7 linked regions of the Homo sapiens genome follow. The protein of the gene in region 4 purifies or fractionates together with the protein of the main gene of each other region. This does not show direct contact. Each region holds a gene or a part of one and is shown on either strand. Other genes may lie near its edges. The genes, in order: EIF3J, DDX24, SH3BP1, HECW2, CKMT1B, ALKBH5 and AVL9.

Region 1 (3,500 bases), on a different chromosome or scaffold from region 4:
TGGGCGGATCACTTGAGGCCAGGAGTTCAAGACCGGCCTGGCCAACATGGTGAAACCCCATCACTGCTAAAACTACAAAAATTAGCTGGATGTGGTGGTGCACGCCTGTAATCCCAGCTACTCGGGAGGCTGAGGTATGAGAATCACTTGAACCCAGGAGGCAGAGGTTACAATGAGCGAAGATCATGCCACTGTGCTCCAGCCTTGGTGGCAGAGTGAGGCTCTGTCTAAAAAAAAAAAAAAAAAAAAAAAAACTAAAGTGTTTAGAAGAATGCCTGAAACAGTAATTACCAGTGTTCACTTTTATTTGTTATTATATACGCTTATTTAAGAATTCGTACAATACAGAAAGGTACTGAGTGCATCATAATCCCTGTGCTTTTTAAAAACTTTTGTCTCATTTTAGTTAGAAGAACCCGAAGAACCTAAAGTGCTAACACCAGAAGAACAATTAGCAGATAAACTGCGGCTAAAGAAATTACAGGAAGAGTCAGACCTCGAATTAGCAAAGGAAACTTTTGGTAAGACGGGATTATGATTGCAATACAGTATTAAACTGTTACAGGTGAAGACCCAGAAAGTTCAGAAAACATCTCCTTTTCTTAAAAGAAACATACTGGCTAATGTAGATATTAGAAAGCAGTTTTTAATCTCTGTGTATATTTGAGATTTCATTACATGTTCAGATTTTTGAATAATTGTTTTGAGTAAAAGATTATTAAGATAAGTCATTTATAGCAATGCAAGAAGGGCAAAAAGGAGTAGACTCAGATGAAGTACACTACTGCATAGAATATTTTTATCAGCTGGATGAAATTTGCATGAAATGTGAGGTCTGTAGCTTTGAAATGGACTGTAGGGCTGTCCTGTTGTCTTAAGACTTAGACAGTAGGATGTTGCTCCAGGTGAGAGGCATGCAGCTTTTGCTGTGCCTTCTTGTGCTCAGTGTCATTTCCTTCTGCAACCCTTCTTTGCCCTTACCATGCCCTATCTTTAGAGGGCCTCCATTTCTTTGTGCGGTGTCTGCAGCTGTGGTTAGTGCGTGAGATAAAAGTGCAGGATCCTATAAATAGATAAATTCAGAGTGTTCCAGAGTAAGAGACATGGCTAGAGAAATAGTCAAAGCCCTCGCTTCATTTAACCAAGTTATCGTTACCTGTTGAGTACTTTTCAGAGTAGAAGATCATGTTGAAACAGTTAAATCACTGAAATTTATAACCAAGAAGGAAAGCTCTAGTTATTCTGATACCCCTCCCCCACTTTCATACTTTCTCTACTCTGAAACAGATCAACAGGCTGACTGTAGTGATTGTTTTCCTTTTCATGAGGAAGTATGACCTTATCTGTCAGTGGATCTGTACAAATACCAGGAGTTGATGTGAATGCTCCTGTGCACCATTGTATGCTTGGCAGGTCTTAACTGCACTCATCTAATTATAGAGAGCTCTTGGCTGTTAATATGTGTCTTCCTAGGATGGTAAAAGCTGCCCATGTGTTTATTAAAGAGGCAGGTTTATGAAGTGTGCATAAAGCCTAGCATGGGACACCTGTTATAGACTAAAAGGTAAAAACATGCATTCATATAGTCATTGTTAATAGGATTTTACTGTTGTGTTTCTCATACTAAAATACCACATGTAATATTGTTAATAACTAATCTACTTGACATGGAGGATACAGAAGCATACTTATCTTAGTGTAAAACTCATCTAGGCCAGATTTTTTTTTTTCTAACAGGGTCTGGCTCTGTCATCCAGGCTAGAGGACAGTGGCTGAGATCGGCTCACTGCAACCTCTGCCTCTGGGCTCAAGCCATCCTCCCACCTTAGCCTCCCAAGTAGCTGGGACTACAGGCGCATGCCACCACGCCTGGGTAATTTTTGTTTTTTGGGGCTTTTTTTGTAGATACAAGGTTTCACCATGCTGCCCAGGCTGTTGTTGAAGTCCTGAGCTCAAGTGATCTGCCGCCTTGGCCTCCTAAAGTGCTGGGATTACAGGCATGAGCCACCATGCACAGCCTAGGCCAGATTTCTTCTATTGGGATTTAACATGTTTACCCCCGCTTAGCTTCTGGAGTTAGACAAATACTTTCACAGGATCCATCTTTGTTTCTTATTCTTTTTGTTCCCTCTCTCCCCACTTTACTGTGGGGGTGTTCTTGGACAAGAACAGAGTATCCCTTTTGTAATGTAATATGTTGTGTTTTGTTTTTAGAGAAAGGTTCTTGCTCAGTCATCCAGTCTGGAATGCAGTGGCATGACCATAGCTCACTGCAGCCTCAAACTCCTGGGCTCAAGCAATCCTCCCACCTCAGCCTCCCGGGTAGCGAGGGCTACAGGTGAATATCACCACACCTGGCTAATTTTATTTATTTTTTTGAGACAGAGTCTCACTCTGTCACCCAGGCTGGAGTGCAGTGGTGCAGTCTCGGCTCATTGTAACCTCCGCCTCCTGGGTTGAAGTGATTCTCGTGCCTCAGCCTCCCAAGTAGCTGGGATTACAGATACATGCCACCACCATGCCTGGCTAATTTTTGTATTTTTGGTAGAGACAGGGTTTCACCATGTTGGCCAGGCTTGTCTCTCGGACTCCTGACCTCAGGTGATCGGCCTGCCTAGGCCTCCCAAAGTGTTGGGATTACGGGTGTTAGCCACTGCGTCTGGCCACACCTGGCTAATTAAAAAAATTTTTTTTGTAGAGATGAGGTCTTGCTGTGTTGCCCAGGCTGGTCTCAAACTCCTGGCCTCAAGCGATCCTTCCTCTTAGGCCTCCCAAACAAAACACTGGGATTACAGGTGTGAGCCACTGTGTCTGGCCTTGATATATTGTTTTTAAATGAATAAAATACTTATTTATAAAGAAAACCTGTTATATATAAATAGATGTCAAAATACTAAAATGACAAATTTGTGATACAGAATTATATGCTTCCTTATCGATGCATTAAATCAGGTGTAGTGGCACGTCAAATAATGTCATTTGAGAGTAATTATGACTGAACAATATTAATATTGTAAGATATCTGTAATGGCAGGAGAGTGTGATCTCTCCTGGTAAGTCAAGTTTTGCTAATACCACTGTGATTTGTTGCCAGTCAATTGAAACTGAAGGAAATGCTGAATTAGAGGTTAATAAAGATGTAACTTTTTTTCTGATTTAAGTTTGTAACCCCCCTCCCCCCTCACCCAGCCATTCTATCCAGTGACTCCAGTGGCTCCAGGTTCAGAGCCCCTGCTTTAGAATGAAACGACAGGGTTATTCAGATAGCTATTGGCTTTGTAAGGTTTCATTTTTAAAAATCCTAACCTCCTGATACTTTTCAGTGCTTCTTTTCTCCTACAGGTGTTAATAATGCAGTTTATGGAATAGATGCTATGAACCCATCTTCAAGAGATGACTTTACAGAGTTTGGAAAGTTACTAAAAGATAAAATTACACAATATGAAAAGTCACTATATTATGCCAGTTTTTTGGAAGTCTTAGTTCGAGATGTGTGTATT
Region 2 (3,500 bases), on a different chromosome or scaffold from region 4:
TGTGTGTTTAGGATGAGTGTAGGGTGTGCTATAGATGATTCCTCTTAACCCGCTGCTGACCAATGATATGGGTCTCTCTGGATCTGCAGGTGCCTGGTAGTGGATGAGGCTGACCGGATGGTTGAGAAAGGCCATTTTGCTGAGCTCTCACAGCTGCTAGAGATGCTCAATGACTCCCAATACAACCCAAAGAGACAAACGCTTGTTTTTTCTGCCACACTCACCCTGGTGCATCAGGCTCCTGCTCGAATCCTTCATAAGAAGCACACCAAGAAAATGGATAAAACAGCCAAACTTGACCTCCTTATGCAGAAAATTGGCATGAGGGGCAAGCCCAAGGTCATTGACCTCACAAGGAATGAGGCCACGGTGGAGACGCTAACAGAGACCAAGATCCATTGTGAGACTGATGAGAAAGACTTCTACTTGTACTACTTCCTGATGCAGTATCCAGGCCGCAGCTTAGTGTTTGCCAACAGTATCTCCTGCATCAAACGCCTCTCTGGGCTCCTCAAAGTCCTTGATATCATGCCCTTGACCCTGCATGCCTGTATGCACCAGAAGCAGAGGCTCAGAAACCTGGAGCAGTTTGCCCGTCTGGAAGAGTAAGTTAGGACTGTCCCCAGAGGCTTAACCTCTAGTTAGTTACTGGGGTAAAAGGGGTCAGGATGGTGGGGAAATGGTAGAAAAGCCACCTTCTGTCATAGGGGCCTTGTCTCAGTAGTAGGTAGCCTTTTTTTTTTTTTGCACAGCATTTGGCAAGGTTACTGTCATTTAGTGAATTTGGTTGCAGTTAAATGCCATACAGAAACTTCAATACTAATGAATATAGGTGACAATACATAATATTGAATGTATAGACAATAGATTAGGTCCTGTGCTGGCACTTTAGATTCAGAATCACATTCAGTTACTCTCCTAACATCCTTAAGAGGAAGCAGAATAGATTCATGGTTAAGAGCACAGATCCTGGAACCAGAATGCCTGAAATCAAATCCTAGTTCTGTCACTCCTTAGGTGGTCAAGTTATTTAATTTCTCTGTACTTTAATTTTCTCATTATTTGGATAATAATAGAACCCATTCTAGGGTTGTTATGAAGATTGATTGTAAATTCATGCGTGTAAAGTGTTTAGAACAGTCTCTAGCACATAGTATGTATATATTGCTAAATGTTAGCTTTAATAATTTCTAGTCCCTTTACTACTTATTACCATTATCACTATTCTCATTTATAGATGGAAAAATGAGGTCTAGAAAAGCTGATCAGTGTGCCCAAGGTTTCTCTGCCTGGAAGTGGTAGAGCTGGGCCTCAGACAAGCCTGTCGGACCTCAGAGCCCATGCTATTTCTTATTCCTGATGTCTTTGTCCATCTGCCTTTGGACCAGACTGATGCTCAGGGAATGGGGTGCAGATTGTCAAGATGAGGGCCTGGAAAGTTGAGGCAGACTACAAAGTGTCTTTTGCCAGTGTTTTGTCAGGTCATGGGGTAATTAGTTTCTAGAACAAGTGTTTGATTTACTGGTTTTTAAAAATTGGTAAGTAGTATCAGTGGTTTACTGAGATTAGCTTAGAACAAGGCTTGGCAAACTATAGGCCTCGTGCCAAATCTTGCTTGCTGCCCTTTTTTTTTCTAAGATGGGGTCTTGCTATGTTGCCCAGGTTAGACTTGAACTCACGGGCTCAAGCAATCCCACCTTAGCCTCCTAAGTAGCTAGGACTACCAGTGCATGCCATCACACCTGGCTGCTGCCTGTTTTTTTAGTAGACGTTTTACTGGAACACAGCAAGACCCATTTATGTATTGTCAATATCCTCTTTTGCGGCAGAGTTGAATAGTTGCCATAGAGACTGTGTGGTTCACAAAGCTGGAAATGCTCTCTGGCTCTTTACAGAAAAAGTTTGCTGACCTTGATCCAGAGCAGTAGTTTAATGTTTTACAAACTAGGATTTGCATTGCATTTCCCGGCCTCAGCTCAGACATGCAGGGAGTGAGGACCCTGAAGGGCCAGAGTCTTATGTTTTGAAGCACCTCAAGTACTTTTGACTTTCCATGAACCACACATTGAGAAACATCATCCAACACATTTATCAAGTGCTTACCATGAACCAGATGTTGTTCTCTGTGGTGGTAATAACAGCAGTGAGTAATGCAAAGTCCTTGCTCTCATGAAGCTTACATTCTAGTAGAGGGAGATAATAAATTGCAAAGTAAGCCCACAGTCTGCCAAGTGATCCTAAGAAGTAAGTCGAGCAGGGGTTGGAGAAAAGAGATTGGGTATGTGTGGTCAGTCTCTGATGAAGTGAGAATTGAGCAGAGAGCTGAAGAAAGTAATGAAGTGAGTCATATGGACATCTGAGGCAAGACCCTTTAAGGCCTTAAGGAGTAGCAAGTGCAAAGGCTTGGAGGTGAGAGCATGCTTGGTTTGTTTGGGGAAGAGCAAGGAAGTCTGTGTGCCACTGGGAGGAAGTAAATGAGAGGGTGCTAGGAGAGGAGTCACTGACCCAGAATATGTATGGCCTCATTTAACTCACTGAAGGGAGTCTTTATCATTGCAGAGTATGGCATGTTGGTTGGGGTCAATGAGTCCCAAATTTGGATCCAGACTCCACAGCTGAATAGCCATGTAGATAGCTTGGGAAGTTAATCTCTCCGAGCCTCAGTTTTTCTGTAAAAGGGTATACAAGTGATATCTTACAGAGTATTGGTAAGGACTGTAATGTTTAGGATGCTCAGCAGTTGGTAAGAATTTGATTAAAGATAGCTGTTAGTTATTATTAATAAGCTTTCTCTCTCTACCCCAGCTGTGTTCTCTTGGCAACAGATGTGGCAGCTCGGGGTCTGGATATTCCTAAAGTCCAGCATGTCATCCATTACCAGGTAGGGGCATCTGAAAATTTATAGGCATCTGCCTGCACTGAATGGGGAATTTTTAAGGCAAAGGTTGGGGGAGGGAGGAGGAATTGTTGGTTCCAAGGCTCTTGCATCAGAGAATACCACTGGCATCGAGTGCCCACTACTCCCACTTTTGCAACACTGCTGAGATTTGGTCTCCAGAAAACCTTGCTTTGTCTCATGTCAAGTAGCCCTTCTCTCCAAGCTACTTGATATTGTCAGGTTAGAGTCTTAGTTTTTTCTGTGAAATGGGCATAAGTTAAGCATGTAATTGGTTACCCTGATGTAGAGAAGTATTAATAGAAGAGTGTGGTAGTTTAGATCTCTCTGGGCTCAAATCCCAGCTGTGTAACCTTGAACAAGTCATGTAATCTCTCTGTATCTCAGTTTTCTCATGTATTAAATGGCAGTGAGTACCTGCTTCTTAGGGTTCTTACTGAGGTAAAATAAGTTACTAAGTATAAAGAGCTTAAGAAGCCACCTGGCACATTGCAAGCACTTACTCATGTTAACTGCCATTGATAGTAGCAGTAATATTAGTGTGTGCATCTAGTGAATATCAGCATAAAATTTTGGTTAGGAGTATGGGCACCGGAGCCAGACT
Region 3 (4,213 bases), on a different chromosome or scaffold from region 4:
CCTTGGGGCAGGGGAGGAGGGAACCCAGGAGGGCCACAGTCCCAGATGAGAGTGGAAACAAGATGACAAGGCGTGGTGGGGGTGACATTTCCCTGAGAGCATGGATGGAGCCCCTCTCCATCTGGCGTGCCCTTTCCTCTTCCCAGAAGCCACTTGACTGGGCAGGAAGGAATGACCAAGTCCTACTGCAGACTGGGAAACTAAGATGCAGGGAGGGCAGGGAGCTTGCCCCAGGTCACACAGGTGGAGGGAGAATGGGAGCGGGAGCTCTTTCCCCTGTCCCAGGGTATATATGGCTGACCTAGCCACCGCTGAGTTCAAACGCTCTATGGCTCCCAATTTCCTTGCCTTGGCCACACTGAATTGTCAACTGATTCCAAAACATGGCCCCACACTCCCACCCCATCTGGAGTTACGGGGAATGCCTGCTCTGGGATCAGAGACCAGGGTTCAAACCTCAGTTCTGCCACTTACTAGCTATGTGACCTTGGACAAGTGACTTTATCTCTGAGCCTCCAGTTCCTCATGTGTAAAGCAATGCCTGCCCCTAGGGTTGTGCCAGTGTTCCATGAGACAGTGCACTCATATGTTAGTAACAAGCTGGCGGTTATCAGCCAATAAACGCTGCCTCTTGATTAATAAACGTGTATCCCTCAAAAGCCAGCTCAATTGCTACCTCCTTCAGGAAACCCTCTGAGGCCGCCCCATTGACAGCCTGCTCTTGCGCACTGATTGGACAGAGAAGTTCAGGTGCTGTCAGAAGCCTGGCCTTGGCTTATGGGAACTGGTGCACAGGGAAGTGGGGTAAAGGTGATGGGGAAGGTATAGGGCCTCTTGAGTGCAGTGCCAGAGGGGCCTTGGAACAGAGCAGTCTCCATGCCCTTGGTGCCAGACACTCAGACTGGCAAGGAAACCCCAGCCCCGACCTTGCTTCCCCATTGGATGGAAGTCTCCTGCTCAGGCCCCTCCTTCCCGGGACCCCCCACTCACCACCCGCTTGTCCATGTCTGCCCCGCTCTGGCCCTGCAGACAGGCCTGCAGCCGCTTGTGGATGTTGTGGGCTGCCCGCTTGGCCGGCTCCAGCCGCTGTTCTACCTGGGAAGGAGGTATGGAGGTTAAGGATCAAGAGAGGCTGTCTCCCCCTGAGCAGGAAACTTTCTCCTGTCCCCTGGGGACCCCATGGCCAACAGCTTGAGGAATGACTCAACCCAGGCCCCTACCTGGCGTCCCCGCCCCGGCCCTCTGCTCCGAGACAGCCTGCACAGGCCTGCCTTCCCACCTGCCCGGCCCAGGCACGTACCTGCAGCAGGTCCTCACCCAGGAACTCAGCGGTCTCCGGGGTGCTGCGGGGAGTGGTGGGGGGGGGGGGGAGAGTGCTTCTGCTGAGCCTGCCTGGGTTAGAACGCCCCCTACTTCCCTTCCCCGCAGCAGGGCACCTGGACCCCAGTGCTTCCACTGTCCCTCCCAGCTGAGGCCTGCCCTGGGTGGCCCAGTTGCTTCATCCCAGTCGGAGCACATTCCATGGGGGTGGGAATAGGATACATGGGTTTTTCCTCCTCCACCCAGGGCTGTGTCCTGAGAGAGGGCGGACAGATGAAACTAAAGGGGAGGCTGAGAGACCCACCCGGGGCCCAGCTTTGGGACACAGAAGCCTCTTTTCTGCCCACTCCCAAATCCTCAGCCCACCCCGGGATGAGGAGTATTAGCTGGCCCCAAGAACGGGAAGTGCAGGAGCTCAGACTCCTAGGCACAGTCACACAGCACTCTGGACTACAGCTGTGGGCAGGGGTGCACAGGCCCTTGGCCCCCACCTGGGGACACATGGGGGATGCCAAGGCCCACTGCAAGGTGGTCTGACTGTCCAGGCTATGTAGGCATCTGTGCCAGTGTGAGACTAGAACCAGGTCTCTGGACACCCAGTCCCCTCCCTGGACCCAGAGAATGGGGAACTCCTGAGGCTGGGGGAAGAGGAGCAGAGAAGACAGGCTCTGAGAGGCTCCCCAAACTTCCGGCCTCCGTGCCACCGGCTCAGAGGCTGGGGGTGGGAGCTGGGAGACCTGGGGATATTTCCACCTGAGTCCAGGAAAAGCAGAAACGAGACAGAAGCAGGAGGCCCCTGGGCTGGGGGGAGGGGGAGGGGGAGGGACGCTGCAGGCCAGGGGCAGGCCCCTCCTCCCACCAGGCCAGGACCCATCTCCTCCCCTCGCCCCAGGTCTGTGGCCCTAATCGACCCTCCTCCCTCCCCGGCCCAGCAAGCAGAGGTGGTGAACTGTCCCATTGTCCAGAGGGGACAAGTGAGGTCAGGAGGACCATCCACTTAGAGACTCGTGGAGGCAGAGAAGTCCCAGCGTCCTAGGGCAGAGAGCATTCTCCCGCCTGAAGCCCCCTCCAATCCGGTAAGGGGGGGCATCCCTTCCCCCAAAGGCCACCCTTGCTCCTCCAGCTCTGCCCGAGAGACGGGGGCGGCGTTCAGAGAGGAGGAAGAGAGAGCAGGAGTCTGGCCGCTCAGAGGGTGGCTGCCCAGCTGTCCCCAGCCTCCCCCACCCCCGTCTCCCCCGACCCTTTTACGACCCCTCAAGTCCTGCCGGGGTAAGAGTGGGGCTGGAAGCGGGTGACACTCACCGTCCCAAGCTGCCCGTCTGGGCCAGCTGCCGCATGCGGTGCAGCTGCCTCTTCATCATCTTGGGGGCGAGCTGGGGGCTGCGGGGTCACGGCGGGGGTCGCGGGCCCGGGGAGCCCCCGGTCCAGCCTGCCTCTCCTGCGGCGCGGCTCTTGCCCCGGATGGGTGGGCGGCGCTCTCGCTTCCTGGGCCGCCGCGCGGCTCTTGCTGGCGGCCGGCTCTCTCCTCCCCCGCTCACGACTCCGCCCCCGGCCCCCAGGTCACTCCTCTCTCCAAGTTGGTTTCCTCGCTCTTCCCCGGCTTCCGGGCCCCCGGGCGACCCCCGGCCGGGCCCCCGCTGCTGTGTGTCCGCCGGCCGCGGCCGTCCACAGGTTGTGCCCGGCTCCTCCTCCCCGCAGCGCCCCGCCCAGCCCCGGTGGCGGGAAGCAGGTAAGCCCATTCCTGCCCCTGCGCCCGCAACCCGCCCCAGGCGGGGTGCCTGCCCCACCCGCAGCCTGCAGACCCGAAGTATAAATAACCTTTGCATCCCTCGCAAAGAGGAAAGGGTACCAAGCGAAAGAGGGGTAGGCCTTTCTGACCTGTCCTGGCCTCTCTGGGCCTGCCGCGGATACTGCCTTGCACTCTCTTCCGCAGAGGACCTCTGGCCCCCTGGAACTAAACCCCCCACCACTGGATGACTGGCTGGGAGCTTTGGCTTCCTGGGGCCACGGGCTGCTGTGTGGCCGTGGACAAGCCCCTGGAACTCCGGACTCGCTGTTTCTAATGGTCTGATGGGCCAGCTGTCCTGGGCCTGCCCATTCTGCAGAGTGGACAAGACACCCCTGCCAGCTCCCTTTAAGGGAGGTGCGTGCCACCCCTCAGCCACCAGGAACCCTCCCAGAGCGGTTCGCGACACCCTGTTCTCCACATCTCCTGGCAGTTTGCTCCATCTGTGAAGCCCGTCTCCTCTCATTCCTCCTGGCAAACAGCCTCAGTCCCCCTTCCTTCTTGTAGGGCAATGATGTAGGTGCTGCTCTGACTGCCCCCAAACTCAGTAGTTCTCCTCTTTGGCCCTCCACTCAACACAGAGTTAGGCATACAGTAAGTGCTCCATAACTGCTGGTTTTACAAGATGTGAGCGCCTTTAGGAAACAGTAGGCTCTCCTTACCCTGCACCCCTGTGGCATCAGGAGCCGCAGGCGTGGGGAAGAGGGGAGGGTGTGCCCCAGAGTCCTGCCACACCCTCTGCACTTTGCTTTGTTAGTTTCAGTTTAGTTTGAGACTATTTGAGCCACTACTGTGTGCCGGTGCAGACTGTGTGCCGGTGCAGACTGGGCGCCTCTCAGAGGCAGGACCTTGGCCCCACACATCTCCATACTCCCAGCACCTAGCCCAGGGCCTGGCACACTCACTGGCTGCTTCTCTCCTCCCTAATGAGGCAGGACTCATTGGGGGTGGGAGGAGCTGAGAAGGGAACCCAACAGCTGCCTGCTATGGCCAGAGCCTCCCAGATGGGAGCCCACCTGAGTGTGGAATCCTGGTGGGAAGTTGGGAGGCTCCAAGATCAAAGCTCAGGCCAGGATGAGATGTCAGGCAAGGTTCCCTCCCCCATCT
Region 4 (3,500 bases):
CCTTCCTCACCTGTAGAGTAAGGAGGCTGGAGCTGCTGGCCTTCCCTGCTGGGAAGCCTGGCCTATCACTGATTCTCAGGGTGCCTTGTAAGCAGTGCTGATGGGATGGTTGGCAAAGCCAGATGTGCCCCTGTGGTGGGGTCATATCCCAGATCTGGAAGCAGGTTTAGTTTTTGCCTTGCCTGGGCCCCGGGCTTGGACTGTCTGCCTCCTGAAGGATGGAGTTTTCCATCTGTTTCAAGTCTGTTTCTTTATCAAAGTCAAATGCAGTCATTTCATTTTCCTGCACACAAGTAACAATCTTATTCTGAATTAAATGACTTATTCTTTTTCTCTCTTTTTTTTTTTTTTGAGACAGAGTCTCGCTCTGTTGCCCGGGTTGCCTAGGTTGGAGTGTAGTGGTGCAATGTTGGCTCACTGCAACCTCCACCTCCCGGGTTCAAGCAATTCTCCCAGCTTCAGCCTCCCAAGTAGCTGGGATTATAGGTGCCCGCCACCACACTCAGCTAATTTTTTTGTATTTTTAGTAGAGACAGGGTTTCACTATGTTGGCCAGGCTGGTCTCGAACTCCTGACCTCGGGTGATCTGCCCACCTCGTCCGCTCAAAGTGCTGGGATTACAGGAATGAGCTGCCGTGCCCGGCCAACTTATTCTTAATTAAGGAAAATCATCAAAAGGATAGTGCCAAATCACTCCACCTCTGCCCTCTAATGGCTATTTCAGAAGGAAGATACAATGTTTCTTCTATCTACTCTTTGCTCCACTGTACAGTTTAGAGCCTCTAGTCAGCTATGCATTATTAATTTGCATAACTTGTTTTTGGTCTTCTCTATCTCCTCAGTATGACTTACTACTTTACTCACAACTTACAAAAAGCTCACAAAAAGAAAATAGACATTAATTACACATTAAATTTTAAGAGAATGTCAATGAATAAATTTTAGTTGCTTGAATGAATGTATATGTCTAGGAGCTTTATTATAACACTTCTTCAAGTCTAGGTCTCGTTTTAAATGGCTCCAAGACAAGATTGTTTCCGTTTTTCAAGAGTAACAAGTTCTCTGGATGGAATTATTTAGGATAAGGTAGGCATCAACCTGATCCAAGAATTCTGCCCCAGGGAGAAGTTTTTATAAAAAGCTCCAATATACTGAGAGACAATCAAACACTATGAGATTTGACACTGAAATATTAACAGTGGGTACATCTTGGAAAAGATAAAGACGCAAAAAACATATATAATTAAAATAAACTACTTTTTTGTCAAGTACATTTTAATAAGTGTAAGGACACTTTTATTTTTAAAAGAATTGTGTTACTACTTCTTATCAGTATGAAAAGTCCTAGGACTACCAAGTTTCATGTCATTTTTTCCTATATGAACTAATCTCAACAAGATCCCCAAAGGTAAGGGCTGATTACCCGATGGCTTGTCGCTCCAGCAGCCTCTGGACTGGAATGGTTAGTTTCCCCAGAAAACGCTTGATGATGGGACGGCTCTTGGCAAATTTGTCTTTAATTTCAATTTCTAAGACATCAGTAAGAAGTGCAAAAAAGGAATATTTCTGAAAACACAAACAGATAACATGCTGGTTTAAAAGAAAGACAAATATGATACTATATCATTTTATTTGTATAGGAAATGGTATCTCTTAAATTCTAACAACATACAGAGTTCCACATAGCTAGAAATAGCTGCAGCTATTGTCAATCCTTTATTCACTCAGAATGATTAGCATTCACCATGATTAAAAAGCAGCAGTCAAGGATCTGTATGACAAAAGAAGCCCTCTCAGTCAATCATGCAGCCCTTCCTAGTTTCACAGTTTTAGGAGATGTTATCAAATATTAAGTTATGCACAATGCAATTTTAGTACTCCCTACATTTATTGTATCTCAATTCTTTGATATTTAATATCTTGTTATAGAATGGATTAGAATTAACTAGTATATTTGATTGACAATTTGAATTCCTAATCTCATGAAATTCTGAAGTTGCAAAACATAGTTGAAAATACTCCTCCACTTAGTGGTTAAAATAGGAACATCTGCAGAATACTGTGGTTTCCCTGATAAATGTTAAAAGAATGTTTAAATGGAATTTTTCCTTAAGTTTAAAAGGCATACAGGGTCATTTCTTCTGGGACAGAAAAATAAAAGTATGAGGTTAAGATAGCTTTTGTTGTTTTCATTTTAAGAATGCCACTGGGGAAATTTGGATCGGACATTAATAAGGATATAAAATAAATATGAAGAGCTTTACTCACAGAGACTTTTACATATATTATCTTCACTTTATCTTTACAACGATGTAACTTTCTTTTTGAAGATGAGAATCTCAGGATAAGTAAATGATGGTGCCAGGAATCTAACCTAAATTATTTCACTGCTTCCCTGACAGTATCCATGCAACTATAGTGATGTGAATAGTGTTAGCCAACTTTTCACTTAGGTGCCTCTAGGTTTATCTAGTCATAACAATTAAGGTTTTCCAAAGGGCCAAGCAATTTGGCAGTCTGCTTAATGGAAAAAAGTACTTGCTTAGAATAAAAAAGCCGAGTTTAATCCCCACTTCTGTCTCTGAATAGCTAGTCCCATAAACACTTTAAGCTTCAATTTCTTAATCACCAAAATGAAGACATAATAATCTCATCCTTCGTGCCTCCCTTTCAGGCTTGCACTGGTGACATGGTCAAAAACTTTGCAAATTTAAAATGTTAGGAAAATAGTTACTGCTTGTTTCATTATCATATCTATTATGTGCTTTCTAGAATCATATTGAGATATATTTTTATTTCTTCTAGGCTTTGAAATGCATTAGACTAAGTGGCATGCCCTTAAGAGTTTTTTTTGTTTTTTGTTTGTTTTTTTTTTTTTTTTTTACCATGATGAGATCATTAGTAGTTTCTTAAACCAAGTGTAAGAATACAAGCAATATTCAATATCTAAAACCATAGGAACTGCCCAGGAGAAATGCCTTGCTGTGTTGGCAAGTCTCAGATAACTATATCTTTTCTGCAATCGGTTTTAGATCCCCTGATATACCTCTCTCCAATTAAATATTTCTACAATATTGTTAGAACATATTGTTGTCATTAAATATTTAGGGTATGATCTAATTAACTGTGTAACTCCTATGCCAGCCCAGAAAGATTTTCACACTAGTTATGTAAAACATGCCTCAGATCTCCAAGAAATGGAGGGAGAGCTCAAGCTTTGCTCACTAGATAAGAAGTGTCTATTTGTTCATTCTTTGACTTTCCGTAGTTCAAATGAGAAAACCCTTTGCTTGATTTCACTGATATGGTGCACTAAGATGACTGGTAGCATACTGTAGCTGTGAGGAAGTCTAAAATACCATCAACACAATCTGGCTTCACTCAGGATGATGACTCCTTGAATGGCTCATCTAATTAACAAAACTCTAGAAATTCATAAAACATTTGCCAAAGCCCGCAGAGAGAGAAATTCCTTTAATTTGTACTAAATGTATGCTACA
Region 5 (4,166 bases), on a different chromosome or scaffold from region 4:
GTATCTGTCTTGTGGGTACACCAGGATAGCAGAGGGAAGGGACTAATGCCACGGTGCTACTCCACCTTAACTGACCCTCCACGCTGAAGCCCCTCATCTCTATTTCAACTCTAGCATTCATTCTCCTTGCTACCAGGACAAAGGTCAAATCATACCTGGAGCTGGGAAACAAAGCCCTCTCAAATCTGAATATGTGTTTCACGAGGAGAGAGAGAGCAGCAGAGGGGACCACGAGGAAGGCAGAGATTCCCTGACGACCTCATGCCTTTGTACACCACTCGCCTTTACTCTCTGGATTAAACAGCATTAGGGAGACAAGAGAGGAAACACATGTGGTGTCTGGAGACCTGTGCCTGCCTGTTCCAGTCCCACACCCAGTCATCTCACCACACCCTTCACCTCACTTTACCTTCTCCTCCAGCACAGGAACTAGGAACTACGGAGAGAGAAGCCAAGGGAGAGGAGGAGGAGGAAACTAACGATTCCCTGCCCACCCCCACACCCAGCACCACCAACAGGTGGGCAAGCTTGCCGAGAAAACGCAGAGGGCATCCTGTGAGCAGCAAACACATCTGAGCCTGGAAAAGACGCAGAGAAGTAAAAGATCAAAGGTGAGGTAGGGGACGTGGAGGAAAGTGGGAGAGACAAAAGGAAAACAAAAAGTGGGGGATCATGAGAAGCAGAGGCAGGAAATAACAGGGCTTCAGACTTGGGTGCAGAATGGAGGTGGAGGACACAGCACAGATGGCATAAGAATTAATATTTCCTTGGTTCCTCCCAGGGAGTCCTTTCTCAACTTTGTAAGGCGTGCACAGAGGTGGCAAGGAAGCACCTTGCTCCTCTTCCTGGTTCTAAGGAAAAGGTGACCTTGAGCCAGTGGGTGTCTTTCCCAGTGCCTGCCTCTAACCCTGTGCTTTCTCCATATCCTCCTCTGGTATCTGTGTTTATTCCGCGGTTTCCCCGCGGCTGCCCCCGGGAGACCGAAGAGGTGGCTGGGGCAGGCCGAAAGCAGAGGAAAGGTTGGGCAGTGTCACCCTTGCACACCCACAGGGTAGACGGATCGAGTTTCAGCTTAAACCGAGGGGTGTGGGGGAAGGGTGTTGGGTTCAGCTAGTCCACGTGGGTGCTGTCCTCCACTTGGTGCTGAAATCTGGGCGGCCACATCCCCGGGGCGGGAGGGGGCTACATCCCCGGCTTTAGACGCGCGAGTCTCAGGTCCCGCTAATTACCTGGCGGGTGCTGCCCACCCCTGCCCTCGCGCACCTAGCGCGGTGGCAGGCGGGAAGGCGGGGCCTGGGGGAGCCCCACCCCTGGAGACTGCGGCTGGGGCCTCCCTCTCCTCCGCCCGCCCGCCTGCCACTAGCTCATTGCGCCTCTCCTGCAGTCTGATTGGCACCGGCTCCCATTCCGGCTCCAGCCTCCAATCCGACCCCCATTTCGGCTGCAGCCTCGGACCTAGCTCCGGCCCTCGGTCTATCCGGTTGCATCCTCCCTCCCTGTTCCGGATCTTATCTTGCGCCAGCGCCTACTCCAGGATCCCGTAGCCAGACCTCAAGCCATGGCTGGTCCCTTCTCCCGTCTGCTGTCCGCCCGCCCGGGACTCAGGCTCCTGGCTTTGGCCGGAGCGGGGTCTCTAGCCGCTGGGTTTCTGCTCCGACCGGAACCTGTACGAGCTGCCAGTGAACGACGGAGGCTGTATCCCCCGAGGTAACAGTGCCTGAGGCGCGGGAGGAGGCGGGGGCAGGAGGTGATGGGAACGAAGGTGCGGGTAGAAGTGAGAATCCGGGCAACAGAGAAGGGCTATAATCACGAAGGCCCTGGAGCTGGAGGGCTGTGCAGTCTGCAGACCTCAGTGGGGTGGGGGTGGGGGCCAAAACCATAAAGCAAGAACATTCCTGGGGACCTGCCAAGACCAGCTCTGGCCCTACGAGTTCTAGCTGCACTGGCTGCCCAAATCCCTAATTGTAAAGCCAGGAACTATCCTTTTCGCTCCCCTCCATCTCCTTCCCTCATTTCCTCAATTCCTCTCCTTAGGCTTTTCCCCTCCTCCATCCGTAGTGTTGTGTCATGGGAGGAAAGAACTGAGCAGATCTGAAGAAACTGAGCTGGCCAGCCAGAGGCAACTAGAACTATTAGGAAAGCATAGACTCTGAAAGTCCCTAAAGAGATTACCAAGGTTTACCCTCTTTCTAATTCCCCCTCCTCCCGCGGAGCAAAGCCAGACATGGCCAACTGGACAGCTCCCAGGTAACTGCACTAGGTCTAGGCGTCTGTGCCCTCCCTCCATGGTTACTGGGTACCCCCTCCCCAGCGCTGAGTACCCAGACCTCCGAAAGCACAACAACTGCATGGCCAGTCACCTGACCCCAGCAGTCTATGCACGGCTCTGCGACAAGACCACACCCACTGGTTGGACGCTAGATCAGTGTATCCAGACTGGCGTGGACAACCCTGGCCACCCCTTCATCAAGACTGTGGGCATGGTGGCTGGAGATGAGGAGACCTATGAGGTAGGGGGTCCCCAGAGTCTCCCTGATGATCCAATTCATCTTCCCAGTAATCCCAGCTCCTTTCCCCTAAAGACCTCTCACTTTCCCCCAAGACTCTGAGCCCCCCATACTTAAGTTTTCTGAACCAGTGAAATCAATGCACAATTGAAGTCTGGGGAGGGATTCCCTCTCCTTAACCATCTCTCCCTCTTAACTCCCCTTAGGTATTTGCTGACCTGTTTGACCCTGTGATCCAAGAGCGACACAATGGATATGACCCCCGGACAATGAAGCACACCACGGATCTAGATGCCAGTAAAGTGAGTTCAAATATCCCACTTCTGATTTGCATTGCCTGTGTACAACACTCTGTATCTCCAACCCCTTCACCTTATTTCCTGACTCATGGTCATTATACAGCTGAGCTTTTAATCTTAATGTAAGGAAAGAATCATATCTTAAGGGGCAGCATATATGGAGATGGAAGGATAGATAAGAATGACCATGACCCAAGGTGGGTGGTTTGGGGAAAGGTCTGCAATGCCCCCTTCAATTCCAGTGCTTTCCCAAAGGGCCTCTTCTTCCAATGCATGCAGGAAGAATGCACAAAGAGTCCTCTAATGCCTAAGGAAGGTCTCTCCTTTCCCAGGGGCCCTCAGTTCCCACCGTGTTTCTGTGACTTACATTCATTTCCCTTATCTCCCAGATCCGTTCTGGCTACTTTGATGAGAGGTATGTATTGTCCTCTAGAGTCAGAACTGGCCGAAGCATCCGAGGACTCAGTCTGCCTCCAGCTTGCACTCGAGCAGAGCGACGAGAGGTGGAACGTGTTGTGGTGGATGCACTGAGTGGCCTGAAGGGTGACCTGGCTGGACGTTACTATAGGCTCAGTGAGATGACAGAGGCTGAACAGCAGCAGCTTATTGATGTGAGGGCCTTAAGAGGGTGCTGGTTGGTGGGAGCAGATGGGGAAGGCTGGGCCAGATGAGACATGGGCTCTGAAAGGCCCAGGGGCCACCATGAAGATTCTTAACCCAAGTCCCGTTACTCTTCCCAGGACCACTTTCTGTTTGATAAGCCTGTGTCCCCGTTGCTGACTGCAGCAGGAATGGCTCGAGACTGGCCAGATGCTCGTGGAATTTGGTATGAAGCTGCTCATTACCTCTTTTGTCTTCATGCCCTCATAAATGCTTTTTTTCCCTCTATCTCTCCCAATTCTTGCCTTGCCTCTTGATCACTGTCCCTCTCCGGCCCTCAGGCACAACAATGAGAAGAGCTTCCTGATCTGGGTGAATGAGGAGGATCATACACGGGTGATCTCCATGGAGAAGGGTGGTAACATGAAGAGAGTGTTTGAAAGATTCTGCCGAGGCCTCAAAGAGGTTAGAGAAGACTATGTAGGGGAGCTAGGTGGGAGGACATAAGGAAAACCAAAGAGTAGCATAAATAGATTATGTAATTTACCAACCAACCCAGGACATGTCTTATAGTAAAAAGGACTATCTAGGACTCACTCCAGGACTAAAGGTGTAAACCAGCTGGGACCATACTGGGAAAACCAGGACATGTGGTCACACTAAGATTAGGAAAAGAAAGAGTGTCAGGAATCTTAGGAAGTGAACAAGGCTGTTGACAGAGAGTGCAAAGAAGGAATAAATGAGATGGCACGTCAGTGCC
Region 6 (2,627 bases), on a different chromosome or scaffold from region 4:
TGGGGTTAGTAAGTGGAGAAGGGGGTGTTGGGAGGCCCAAGAGAGAGAAAGTGGGTAGAGCTGGGAAGTAAAGGTAGATGGCAGAACCATGCAGAGTCTTGAGGCTGTGGTAGGGAAGACCTCTGTCCAGCAGCCCTGGCAGTGTCCCAGGGCACCAGACTCCAAGCCAGGCAGACCCCACAGGGTAATTGGGAAATGTCCCAAAGACTGGGATGGTCACTGGCACTTAGTGGGCAAGAACCTCCGATACCAGGGCCTCTGCCAGGACTACCCTTCGTTGAGGACCACTGAGCTGAAGTGACCCATCCCAAGGATGAGACGAGGTACAGCGGTAAAGCCAGGCGCCTCCTGCCAGCCTCTCAGATAACGTCCTACCTCCCTTTCCTTGCAGGCCACGGATCCTGGAGATGGACAAGGAAGAGAACCGGCGCTCGGTGCTGCTGCCCACACACCGGCGGAGGGGTAGCTTCAGCTCTGAGAACTACTGGCGCAAGTCATACGAGTCCTCAGAGGACTGCTCTGAGGCAGCAGGCAGCCCTGCCCGAAAGGTGAAGATGCGGCGGCACTGAGTCTACCCGCCGCCCTCCTGGGAACTCTGGCTCATCCTTACGTAGTTGCCCCTCCTTTTGTTTTGAGGGTTTTGTTTTTGTTCATTGGGGGGTTTTTGTTTTTTGTTTTTTGTTTTTTTTGATTCTATATATTTTTCCTTGGTTTTGTTGCCTGTTAGGGCTGAAGAATAGAATTGGCCAGGACCTAGGTTCTCATATTCTTGGTATTCCTCCTGGATGGAAAGGCTGTTGGCATCAATAGGGGACAGAGGCTGATGCTGGAGTGGCCAGTAGAGGTGGTGGAGCAGAGCAGCCATCTTTTAAGTGGGGCTGTATCAGGCTGGGTTTATTTAAAAGCAACAAAATGTTTTGGTTAAGAAAATTATTTTGCTTTCAGTGTAAATCTTCGCAGTGTTCTAAACAAAGTTCAGTCTTCTGCTCGCCCCTTTCCCTCACTGATGTCTGCACTTGGTTGAGGTCTCCTGGAGCCTCACAGGCTCTGCTGTTCTCCACTTCTCACCTGCCATCCACGCCCTGCAAGCTCATGCAAACACCCTTTCTTCCTCCTGCGGCAGAGTTGTTCAGGTTGCCTGGGCAGGGGCTTAAACAGTGCCAGCCCCTGCCATCCCAAAGCTATTGTTAAGCCCCCCAGGCGTCCTCCACCCACGCCCACTAGCCTGCCATGTCCACAGTTCCTTGGGCTGCTGAGGGGCTAGTGCAGTGGTCCTGACCTCTCTTATCAAGAGCACACTTCTTTGCTGGTTGCTCCTTTTGAGCATATGCGTGTGATTATTTGGAACAGTTAGACTTGCCACGTTGGGTCAGTTTTAGAAATTGTTTCTAGCTAGAGGGACTGGTGTCCTTCCAAGTCTAGCATTTGGGGTATGGAAAATTGTTGTGGTGTGTGGTAGGGTTTTTGTTTTCTTTTTTGAGTTTTTTTTCCCCCTTTAGTCTCCTGGCTTTTTCCTTTCCCTTCCCTTCTCCACTGGCCAGCTTGGGCCTCATCCTCATGTCATCCTTCTAGGAAGGCGCCTGCCCCATCTTGTCTGCCGGCAGCATGCATCCAAGGCCAGAGCTCAGGCCTGCAGACTGGGCTGGTGCCTCCTCCGCTTCAGGGTATGGGAGTTGGTGAAGGGGCTTTCAAAAAATAATAAGGAAAAAAAGGTAAAGTCTTTGGTAGCTTCTATCCACTCAGATCCTGGAAGGCAGCAAGGTTTTGTGGATCTAGATTCATTAGGAATGTCTTCTTGTCAGCCAGGCCAGGACCCGGGCTTGCCAAGAGCAGAGGCCCTCCCAGCAACCAGGATACCACCACTTTGGGGGCTTTGTGTACAGAGGTCCGGGTCTGAGACCTCATAGGCTGCAGAAATCTGGGGCAGCCACCATCAAGAAGCCCCTCTCAGGGGCCAGAACTCCTTTGCCAGCGTGGATTTCTCAAGTCGGGACTGCATAATTAAAGCAGTTGCAGTTTTATTTTTTTTACAGCTTTTTTCCCAAAAATGATTTGTAGTTGTGTGTGCAGCACTTCGCCCTGATATGTGTGCTCTACAATAAAAACCAAATCTAATATATTTTGAAACAGTTGTCTGATGTTGTTGTAAGAGAGGGCTTGCCTTTGGTGCTTCCTTAATCCCTTTACTTTCTTAAACTTGAAACAGGGGTTGGGGAGGCAGAGCTAGCTCATTGGCCGCCAGCGTCCCAGAGGAGTTGGTTGGTCTTGGACACTGGGCCTCCTGTGTGCCTAGCCTTGGGTTTATGGCTGAAGGTGGACTTGCCCTCACCCCACTGTCCTTTCTCCCACTCCAAGGAGGGTGAACTTCATAAACCACAATGTCCAGGTGCCCAGGGACCACACCTTCTGGAGTTCTGGAAGTCCCTCTTTTAGATATGATCACTGAGAGGCTGGTGCTGGTGAAGGGGGAGATGGCAGGCACAAAAGCAAGGGAGAACCTGGCTTTTGTGGAAAATATGCGAGTGATTTTGCTCATTAAACAAATACTTGGCCAGGCACGGTGGATCACCTGAGCTCAGGAGTTCAAGACCAGCATGGGCAACTTGGCAAAACCCCATCTCTACTAA
Region 7 (3,500 bases), on a different chromosome or scaffold from region 4:
CCATCTCTACTAAAAATACAAAAATTAGCTGGACATGGTGGCAGGTGCCTGTAATCCCAGCTACGCGGGAGGCTGAGGCAGGAGAATCGCTTGAACCCGGGTGGCAGAGGTTGCAGGGAGCCGAGATCGTGCCACTGCACTCCAGCTTGGGCGATAGAGTGAAATTCTGTCTCAAAAAAAAAAGAAAAAAAAAAAATTCAGCCACACTGAGGTTTTTGTAGTTTCTGACAGAAAGTATGAAAACATGTTTCTTGGGTGAATGGTTATAATATAATGAAAGTCCAGGATTCAAAGATGTATTTATTATAATCCCAAATTTGAAGAAGAAAAAGTATATACATTTTCCAAGACAGGAGGATACAGATGGGAGGACCATAAAGCTGCTTCATCATTATTGGTTACATTCTAGTTCTGTAGTTGGTTGGTGGGTTCGTAGGAATTTCTTTTATTATTATACTTCAAAACTAACCTGTAAGTTACATGTATTTTTTAGTATATCAAATATTACATAATAAGATATTCTAAAGTATCTGGCCGGGCATGGTGGCTCACGCCTGTAATCCCAGCACTTTGGGAGGCCGAGGTGGGCAGGTCACAAGGTCAAGACATCGAGACCATCCTGGCTAACATGGTGAAATCCCATCTCTACTAAAAATACAAAAAATTAGCCGGGCGTGGTGGTGGGCGCCTGTAGTCCCAGCTACTCAGGAGGCTGAGGCAGGAGAATGGCATGAACCCAGGAGGCAGAGCTTGCAGGGAGCCAAGATTGTGCCATGGCACTCCAGCCTGGGCGACAGAGCAAGACTCCGTCTCAAAAAAAAAAAAAAAAGAATATTCTAAAGTATCTGCACGCAAAAGAAAAAGTATTTAAGGAATTATACTTGTTAAATGTGTTCATTTCTGCTAGTGAAATAAAGGTGATTTTTACATGTATTTCTATATTTTCCCAAATATTTGCAATCTAGGTGAGTAATTTTGTAATTTAAAATACTATATTTATGTGTGTATTTTCTAAAAACAGAAAATGAGCATTTTATAAATAGAAAGAAAACTTCAGTGTACAAACCTCTTTCTTAGACTCACCTTTTGAGAATGCCATTATTCATATTTTTTATTTCCAGCTCCACCTTCCCCGTAGTTACTCTGTAAAGTGTGGCATGGATGTCTGCGTGAATGCCCAGACTCTGACTTGTACCTGGATACCCTCTAGGTAGAAGAAGCTCTGATCCAGATCCATGATCCAGAACTCAGGAAGCTGCTTAACCCAACCACTGCAGACCTAAGGTTCGCAGACTACCTAGTGAGGCACGTGACTGAGAATCGGGATGACGTCTTCCTAGATGGCACGGGCTGGGAGGGAGGTGACGAATGGATCCGGGCCCAGTTTGCGGTCTACATTCATGCCCTGCTGGCTGCCACACTGCAATTAGGTAAGAAACCACACGGAGCCTACAGCTACCTGTTTTATTATAATTTTTCATTTTGTAACATTTATGAGATTTTGGATTGCACAATAAATACATATTCCTTATAGAAAAATTACCAGTTATTCCCTCATACAAAGATAGCCACTTTTAACGTCTTTAGTACTTTATAGCCTTGCAAATCTTTTCCTATGCATGTATTTTGGATTTTGGTTTTATGGTACTTTTGGTGGTCCTTTTACAAAAATGGATCCCTTTATACATGTTTTCTGAAACTATTACTTTATAATAGAAACAACACATACCAACATAACATGAACATATATCATCACTTTTACATGACTGCTTCATATTCATCAGTATTTGGCAGCTGTTTGTGAATACTGCCACATGTTTTTTAAGATGTATAAAGGGAGAAAGAATATAAAAAATAGAAATCATTGAAAATCGTGTTGTAAATGATTAAATCTTCAAATTTATAACCCATTCTAAGAAATATTATTATTCGTATTAAATGGTTAAAATGGAGCAGGTAAACATGGAGTTACTCCTGCATTAAAACTATCTCATTCTCCTTGGGAAAGAAATATATAAATAGTGAAAATGGAGCTCTGCAGTGAGCTTTTCACCTTGGACATTTGGCAGATATTTATTAGAGTTGTTAAAAATGTGTTGAGCTTGTGTTTTTGTTTCAGTTAACTAACCATTATTTTTTTAATTGTGATGAAATACACATAGCATAAAATTTACCATCTTTACCATTTTTAAATGTACAGTTCCACAGTGGCATTAGATACATTCATTGTTGTATCAGTAGATTTTTTTAATCAACACCACCACCACATGCTCCCAGGTTAGTTGTTTACAGTGCACATAGGAGTTTTAAAGTAGGTTTCGGGAGAGTTTTTCATTTGTAAAAGACAGCTGAGGAACAAGCCCTCGTTTGTTAATGAGATATTTTTAAATGTTTGCCACCACTAACAATGTAGCAGCTGAGACACCAAAATTAAATCCTTTAACCCCAAATCATTTGGTAATCTAGAAAGAAAACTTCAGTCTCCACTGCCATGTAGCTTAATTAATTTGCTTTTAAGCAAATTAATTAATTTGCTTTTTTAAAAATATTTGCCCAGGAGGCTGTAAGCACTGAATAATAGTAGCTCACTTTTTTTTTTGAACATTAAATATATGCAGGGACCAGTGTTCTGAGCACTTTACATCTAGTAATTCATTTCATCCTTACAGCAATCCTGAAGGTAGGGACCTTGTCATTGCCTTTTACAGAAGAGAAAATGAAGCTCACAGAGGTTCATAAGAGGCTTAGGTGGGATCTGATCCCAAACAGTTTGGCTTAGGCCCATACTCTTACAAGTAACAAGGTCAAAAGAGGAAATTCAGCCCAATGAACTGCTTGAGGAAGTGTTCTTAGAACAACTTCTTTATGCTGTGTATGGAACTGTGTATCTCATTCATTTCCTTTCCTAGCAACAAAAGGTACTTTGTATTTCACCTTCAAAGTAAACAACATGCAATTAATATATGAAGTAATAGCCATTTGTATCAGTTCTCCAAACCATTTCTAATCTTCCAAGCGGAGGAAACACATATGGATGCTTTCCCATGGTATTGATAAAGCTGAAAACTTTATCAGTTTTCAGTATATTCTTTTAAGACTTTTTTTGTTTTGTTTTGTTTTGTTTTTTGAGACAGAGTCTCGCTCTTGTTGCCCAGTCTGGAGTGCTGTGGCATGATGTTGGCTCACTGCAACCTCCATCTCCTGGTTTCAAGTGATTCTCTTACCTCAGCCTCCCGAGTAGCTGGGACTACAGGTACCCGCCACCACGCCTGGCTAATTTTTGTATTTCTGGCAGAGACAGGGTTTTGCCATGTCGGCCAGGCTGGTCTCGAACTCCTGACCTCCAGTGATCCGCCCTCCTCGACCTCCCAAAGTGCTGGGATTACAGGCATGAGCCACTGCACCTGGCCTTTTTTAAGTGTTTTTGACAGTGAAATGCTAGGAAATTCAAGAATGAAACACCAAATAAAGTCCAAAGGAGAGAACATCATGACTGAAAG

Evidence for each region.
Region 1: the proteins of HECW2 (region 4) and EIF3J purify together in Homo sapiens (affinity purification with mass spectrometry, with the first as the bait; one large-scale study listed by BioGRID). This does not show direct contact.
Region 2: the proteins of HECW2 (region 4) and DDX24 purify together in Homo sapiens (affinity purification with mass spectrometry, with the first as the bait; one large-scale study listed by BioGRID). This does not show direct contact.
Region 3: the proteins of HECW2 (region 4) and SH3BP1 purify together in Homo sapiens (affinity purification with mass spectrometry, with the first as the bait; one large-scale study listed by BioGRID). This does not show direct contact.
Region 5: the proteins of HECW2 (region 4) and CKMT1B purify together in Homo sapiens (affinity purification with mass spectrometry, with the first as the bait; one large-scale study listed by BioGRID). This does not show direct contact.
Region 6: the proteins of HECW2 (region 4) and ALKBH5 purify together in Homo sapiens (affinity purification with mass spectrometry, with the first as the bait; one large-scale study listed by BioGRID). This does not show direct contact.
Region 7: the proteins of HECW2 (region 4) and AVL9 purify together in Homo sapiens (affinity purification with mass spectrometry, with the first as the bait; one large-scale study listed by BioGRID). This does not show direct contact.

The regions. Positions count from the first base shown.
Region 1 is NC_000015.10:44,554,147-44,557,646, forward strand, and holds part of EIF3J (eukaryotic translation initiation factor 3 subunit J), read left to right. Parts: intron 1-406; coding exon 407-521; intron 522-3,342; coding exon 3,343-3,500. UniProt on the Homo sapiens protein: Component of the eukaryotic translation initiation factor 3 (eIF-3) complex, which is required for several steps in the initiation of protein synthesis.
Region 2 is NC_000014.9:94,057,203-94,060,702, reverse strand, and holds part of DDX24 (ATP-dependent RNA helicase DDX24), read left to right. Parts: intron 1-89; coding exon 90-605; intron 606-2,805; coding exon 2,806-2,881; intron 2,882-3,500. UniProt on the Homo sapiens protein: ATP-dependent RNA helicase that plays a role in various aspects of RNA metabolism including pre-mRNA splicing and is thereby involved in different biological processes such as cell cycle regulation or innate immunity.
Region 3 is NC_000022.11:37,638,256-37,642,468, reverse strand, and holds the start of SH3BP1 (SH3 domain-binding protein 1), read right to left. Parts: upstream 2,801-4,213; 5' UTR 2,682-2,800; coding exon 2,623-2,681; intron 1,344-2,622; coding exon 1,301-1,343; intron 1,096-1,300; coding exon 991-1,095; intron 638-990; exon of another isoform or gene 1-637. UniProt on the Homo sapiens protein: GTPase activating protein (GAP) which specifically converts GTP-bound Rho-type GTPases including RAC1 and CDC42 in their inactive GDP-bound form.
Region 4 is NC_000002.12:196,321,055-196,324,554, forward strand, and holds part of HECW2 (E3 ubiquitin-protein ligase HECW2), read right to left. Parts: intron 1,567-3,500; coding exon 1,424-1,566; intron 1-1,423. UniProt on the Homo sapiens protein: E3 ubiquitin-protein ligase that mediates ubiquitination of TP73. Acts to stabilize TP73 and enhance activation of transcription by TP73. Involved in the regulation of mitotic metaphase/anaphase transition.
Region 5 is NC_000015.10:43,592,661-43,596,826, forward strand, and holds the start of CKMT1B (creatine kinase U-type, mitochondrial precursor), read left to right. Parts: upstream 1-1,366; 5' UTR 1,367-1,558; coding exon 1,559-1,707; intron 1,708-2,034; exon of another isoform or gene 2,035-2,218; coding exon of another isoform or gene 2,219-2,311; coding exon 2,312-2,510; intron 2,511-2,713; coding exon 2,714-2,809; intron 2,810-3,195; coding exon 3,196-3,417; exon of another isoform or gene 3,418-3,418; intron 3,419-3,546; coding exon 3,547-3,632; intron 3,633-3,747; coding exon 3,748-3,871; intron 3,872-4,166. UniProt on the Homo sapiens protein: Reversibly catalyzes the transfer of phosphate between ATP and various phosphogens (e.g. creatine phosphate).
Region 6 is NC_000017.11:18,207,828-18,210,454, forward strand, and holds the end of ALKBH5 (RNA demethylase ALKBH5), read left to right. Parts: intron 1-391; coding exon 392-569; 3' UTR 570-2,127; downstream 2,128-2,627.
Region 7 is NC_000007.14:32,571,989-32,575,488, forward strand, and holds part of AVL9 (late secretory pathway protein AVL9 homolog), read left to right. Parts: intron 1-1,121; coding exon of another isoform or gene 1,122-1,210; coding exon 1,211-1,430; intron 1,431-3,500. UniProt on the Homo sapiens protein: Functions in cell migration.